Linked DNA regions of Homo sapiens: region 2 is linked to region 1. The links come from fine-mapping of genetic effects on plasma protein levels. A gene starts in region 1. The other region holds a variant in brackets. All regions are shown on one strand. Distances are between the middles of the regions.

Region 1 (2,906 bases):
ACCACTGCTCCCCAAGAGCTGGAGTCCTGTCTTTTACTCCTCCAATGATGGGGTGCTCCCCACCTTGCAAGGCAGCCCACAGCCCCATGTTAGGAATTATTTCAAAAGTATAATGAACATGATGGGGTCATTCAGGATAGGCCTGCTTCCTCTTCCTCCTGAAAGTGCACGGGACAGCTGAAGGAGCCCTCAGGCTCCTACGGAACAGGCCAATGTGCCCCACACCCTTTGCGTCCCAGACTGCCACAGGGACCTGCTCCTCATTGCCCCTCTGCCACGACCTTTCCTTGTCCCTAAAAGTAAACAAAACCCACATGACACCACAGCTAGAAGGTTCTGAGACCCTTCATACAGACATGGAGACAGCCCCAGGTGGGCAAGGGTATTCTCAAAGCCACCCCGGGATTTAGGGCAGAGTGGGGGCTGGAAGGCAGCTCTGGCACTCCACACTCACAGGAGAGTGTCCTGCCCCAGTCCAGGTCTCTCCTTGTGCCCAAGCCTCTGAATGTCTCCCAACCCTAATCTCTGTCCTGCTTCACCTCTTCCCATAAGCCCCACATGCCCAACCCAAAAGCTGCTGGCCACATGCCCACGCTGTGCCACCCCAGGTGTCTGTCCACAGTCAGGCCAGGATGTGGGCAGGGGACACAGGAAGAGCTAAGGGAAAGATGCCACAGAGAGAGGGGAGTCATTAGAGAAGGAAGGGCTGGGAGGTCTGGGCAAAGCTAGGTGTCTGCACGGGGGCTGCAGGGCAGTGGCAGGCAGGACAAAGCCTTCTCTGGAGCAGGTTCCCATTAACACAAGGGTTCCCCTTGGAGCCCACGAGGACAGTGCAGAAGGTGAGGATGTTTGACTCATAGAATGTCAGCCAAGAGACCCACGGAATGGCAGGGGATAGAGCTGTACCTTCAAAGGATCCCATAATCCCAGATGATCTGAGTGGAAGCCTGAGACCCCGAGACAGGCCGCACTTGCCCAGCAGGGCCCATCTGCCTGGACTCCCCATCACCACATCCACCCTACCACAGAGAGCGGCAGCCTTACCCGAGAGATATTGAAGTTTTCCTGCACTTGGATGTTGTCGGGCGGCGTTGGCACAGGGCCAGCGCTCACCGCCAGGCAGGCGCTCAGCAGCAAGAGCAGGGCCCCGAGGCTCCTCATGGCTATGGGCTCCTCTGCCTTGGTATATCCCACAGGCTCGGTCTAGCAACAGAAGGGCCACCGCCTCCCTGCAACAGGGCAGCTGTGAACTGAGGCTGGGGAAGGGGCCTGTGGCTTGTAGTTGACCTCAGTGTTTGCCCTGCTCAGCTGGGGCCAATTACAGCCCCAAGGACAGCTCCAATCGATCCCTGTAGCCTGGCTGGGGTCAGCAGTACCAAGAGGCCGGGATGGCTGCTTCAGAAGAGGCATTGGCCAAGCACAATAGGGCCCTGGAGCACCAGGATTGGGCTCCGCCCCCCAAAAGTCCCCCACAGAGGGCATGCGAGGATGGGGAGCGACCTGGCCTTTCTGCTGAGTCATGCCATCTGGACCTCACAGCTCTGTGAGCCAGCAGGTCAAGCCTGATTGGGCCCATTTCTCACAGGAAAAAACTGAGGCCCAAGGAGAGGAAGTGACTTGCCAGAGACCTCAGGGAAGTCTATGGGCAGAGCCAAGACCAGAACCCAGGTATCCTGTCTCCAGAGTTCCTTCTCCAGCCCCCAGGCTTGCCCTAGCCTTTGCAAATAATAGAGACATTAACAATGATGACTGTTACGAGCTTCCGTTCACTGAGCACCTGCTATGTGCTGGCTGTGTACCAGGCACTTTACACGTGCCACAGGTGTCCAGTAAATCCCCACAACAAGCTTACGAAGTAGGTGCTATTTGTCCCCTTTACAGGCAGAGGAGTTGAGTCTCCAAGAAGTGAAGTGACTTGCCCAGAATCCCTCAGCCGGGAGTGGAGTAGCTGGGAAAGGCGTGGTAGAGACCATGGACGTGGGAGCCAGGCAGCCTACAGTGGCACTCACTGCTGTGTGACCTTGGGCAAGTCACTTTACCTTTCAGTGCCTTGGTTTCCTCATCTGTAAATGGGGATAATAATAGTTCCTAGCTCCTAGCATTGTTGAGTGAGCACCTGCAATGCGCTAGGACAGTACCCAGCATAGAGTAAGAGCTGAGTGTTTGTGGTGGGTTGAACAGTGCCCCCTCCAGAATCCATGTGCACCCCGAACCGCAGAATGAACCTGATTTGCAGATGTGATTAGTTAGATGAGGTTGAACTGGATGACAGGGGTTTTAAATCCAATGACCGGTATCTTTATAAGAGAATGGTGAGGGAGACTCAGACACAGGGACACAGAGAGAAGCACGGGGAAGATGTGGCGTGACGCCGAAGGCAGAGATGGGAGGGATGCAGTGACACGTCAAAAATCACCAAGGATTGATGGCAGCCACCAAAAGCTAGCAAAAGGCAAGGAAGGACTTTTCCCCAGAATCTTCAAAGGGAACATGGCTCTGCTGAAAATTTGGTCTCAGGTGTCTGACCTCCAGTGCTGAGAGAAGACACATTTCCTAGCAGCCCTAGGAAACTAATACAGTAGTTATTAAACTTAAGGTTTTATTTATTTATTTATTATTTTGAGACGGAGTTTCACTCTTGTCGCCCAGGCTGGAGTGCAGTGGTGCGATCTCGGCTCACTGCAACCTCCACATTCTGGGCTGAAGTGATTCTTGTGCCTCAGCCTCCCGAGTAGCTGAGATTACAGGTGCCCACCACCATGCCTGGCTAATTTTTGTATTTTTAGTAGAGACAGCGTTTCACCATATTGGCCAGACTGGTCTCTAACTCCTGACCTCAGGTGATCCTCTCACCTCAGCCTCCCAAAGTGCTGGGATTACAGGCGTAAGCCACTGCGCTCAGCCTA
Region 2 (2,906 bases), 250 kb after region 1:
CGGGGTCATTTCCACCACCTCAAACATTTACCATTTCTTTGTGTTGGGAACATTATCACACAGTTCCCCATAAATATGTACATTATGTGTCCATTTAAAACAATACAAGCAAACAAATGTGAATTTCTAAACTGAGACTACTGTAAGGCCTTTCTCCTAATAGCAAGATTGTAATAAAACTTCAACTAGTCATAAAAAAAAATCCTTTTCTGTTTCTGCTGCAAGCAAGGAAATGAGAGGATGCATTTGAGTAACCTTGAGGCAGAAGACCCTAAACAGGAGTGGAGGTGTGATATTGTTTGGCTCTGTCCCCACCCGAATCTCACATGGAATTTTCAGCCCCATGTGTTGGAGGCGGGTCCTGCTGGGAGGTGATTGTATCACGGGGCTGGTTTCTAATGGTTTAGCCCCACCTCCCAGGTGCTGTTTCTCACAAGGTCTCATTGTTTAAAAGTGTGTAGCACCTCCCCCTTCGCTCTGTCTCTCCTGCTGTCTTGTGAAGAAGGGACTTGCTTCCTCTTTGCCTTCCACCATGATTGTAAGTTTCCTGAGGCCTCCCAGCCATGCTTCCTCTGAAGCCTGCGGAACTGTGAGTCAATTAAACCTCTTTTTTTCATAAACTACCCAGTCTCAGGTAGTTCTTTATAGCAATGTGAGAACAGACAAATACAAGGTGGATGGGGTGGGGAGAGTTCAGGCATGTGGTGCCTATCACAAGGACCTTATTCCAGTATTACCATGGCCATCGGGGGAGGCACGTTGTGGGGACCAGGCTGGAGGCAGGAAGGCCTGAGTGAAGGCTGCTGTGGGCAACTAGGCAAGAGGCGGTTGCCTGGGCCAGGACAGGGCAGGGCAGGGAAGGGCTGGGGTGATGCAGAGGGCTTGGGGCCCAGGCCAGAGGGGCTGGGTGTCTCCATGGACGTGTCCTCAGGGTGCTCACCTGGGAGACCCAGAAGAAGGAGACAACACGTAAGGGTGAGGCTGGTCCCTGGAAATCAGTTGACATCTTGCAAATGTGGAGCCCTGAGGTGGAGCCAAGCCCGAGGCACAGCCCACTCAGTGGCACAAGCCACGAAGGGCCGGCCTCACCCAGACCTGGGGGCTCATGATTGACAGCCTCTTGTTACGTGAGGGAAGCAGCACTCCTCCCGTGGCAGAAAAGTTGGGCCTGAGTTGTTCCATCTATTCCGTATGTGCAGCTGCGTACACCATACAGGGTGATAAGACCATGAGCCTGAGGCTCTGACACCCCAGGGTCCAGTCCTGTGTCCTCAGGCACCACTCCCCTTTGTACCTCCTGTCCCAACAGCCAAGCTCCACAGGGCCAAGACTACAGCATCCTTTGCTCAGCACCCAAACCACTGCTGTGCCCACAGCACGGAGGCTGGGGACACCGAGCTGATGTCCTCAGAAGGCAAGTGGACAGGACAGCCTCTGGGGTCCCACAGTGGCCTGGAACTGAAGGCTCAGAACCTAAAAGAAGTTTCCCCATTTCAATGTTACTTTCAGTAAGACACCATTTTCAACCATACTGAGGAGGATCCGCTGAAAAATGAAACAGAAATGAGTCGTGATGGGCAGGGCAGGGAGAAGCAAGGGAGACGAGAAGTGGGGAACATGGAAGGAAAAGCCACGTGAGGAAGAAACCAGAGGTCAAGAGAAAAAGAATCATGGAGGTAGAGGAAGCAAAAAACACACATAACAAAGAATGTGGACTTTGGAGTCAAACTAATGTGAGTCCAAACCCAGGCTCTCTCCCAAACCAGTTTGGGCAGATGGCCCAGTGGAACCTCACTCTCCTCATCAGTAAAAAGGGGGCAGAGTGAGGGTCCTGAGAGCTAGTACAGGGACTGTGTGAAGTAGACAATGCCCAGTGTTTAGCGTAAGAATCAGGGTCCAGCTGGTGCTCCCTAAACAGCAGCTGCTGTTCACTGTTGAAAGGCGCTCTGGAAGGCCAGGCGCGGTGGCTCATGCTTGTAATCCCAGCACTGTGGGAGGCCGAGGTGGGCGGATCACCTGAGGTAGGGAGTT[C/T]GAGACCAGCCTGACCAACGTGGAGAAACCCCATCTCTCCTAAAAATACAAAATTAGCCAGGCGTGGTAGCACATACCTGTAATCCCAGCGACTCGGGAGGCTGAGGCAAGAGAATTGCTTGAAACCAGCAGGGGAGGTTGTGGTGAGCCAAGATCGAGCCATTGCACTCCAGCCTGGGCAACAAGAGCAAAATGGCGAAACTCCATCTCCGAGAAAAAAAAAAAAAAGAATACTTTCTGAAAGTATTTATTCATACAAATAAAGACTTGACCCATAAGGTAGGAACGCAAATGGGCCACGGAATCACTCATTCCACAGTATACACCGAGTGCCCTTGAAGTGCTGGGCACTGCTCCAGGATTGGGGGCATATTGGTGAAAGAGAAGCAAGCTGCCTGCTCAGATGGCAGGGAATGGGGAAAAACAGGGAGACAGTTTCCTGTTTGAGATGTTGGGAGATGCTTCGAGTAGTATATTTACTGGAAATAGACATTCAACTTGGATGTCCCTTTTTGGAAATGTGCCTGCGTCCAGGGCTGGGTTGGGGCCCCAATGAACTTTGGCTCTGACATAGCTGTTGCCACACTCAGTGGAACTGAATCCATGTTTGCCTTCACCCGGCATCCTTCACCCCAACTCTCCCCGCCACAACATACATCCCATGCCAGCCTGGGGACCCTCAAAGGTGCTTCATCATTAGGTTTGTGGCTGGGTCCTACTGAAGTAAGTCTTGGCACTCAGAGGGATAGGAATTGAATGAAGACATGAGATTCCTCTGCGGGAGGCCTCTCTAGGAAATCTGTGGACTCACACGTTTACTAATGTTGCTGCAGCCCCGCACCCACCTTGGCCTTGGGCAGCCATACTCTAGGGCT

Which allele goes with the higher level. Positions count from the first base shown, and alleles are read on the strand shown. Strength reflects both the effect of a copy and how common the allele is.
With allele C in place of T in region 2, the plasma level of the protein whose gene starts at base 1,252 in region 1 is higher (moderate association).

The links. PIP is the posterior inclusion probability: the model's chance that the variant is causal. Protein levels are from antibody-based Olink assays in UK Biobank. Linkage for the fine-mapping came from a reference panel and not from the study's own genotypes, which makes the PIPs less certain.
Region 2: its variant is fine-mapped to the plasma level of the AMBP protein (UK Biobank, PIP above 0.99).

The regions. Positions count from the first base shown.
Region 1 is chr9:114,077,049-114,079,954 of GRCh38, forward strand. AMBP (alpha-1-microglobulin/bikunin precursor) reads right to left here and starts at 1,252. Exons shown (of 10, transcript NM_001633.4): 1 at 1,045-1,252. The coding sequence starts at 1,161. It overlaps LOC107987120 (a long non-coding RNA gene), which reads right to left. Exons shown (of 3, transcript XR_001746905.1): 3 at 2,892-2,906.
Region 2 is chr9:114,326,763-114,329,668 of GRCh38, forward strand. No RefSeq gene overlaps it. Among named protein-coding and RNA genes, the nearest start is that of ORM2, 1.7 kb to the right of the region's middle. The variant C/T (reference allele first, on the strand shown) is at 2,032.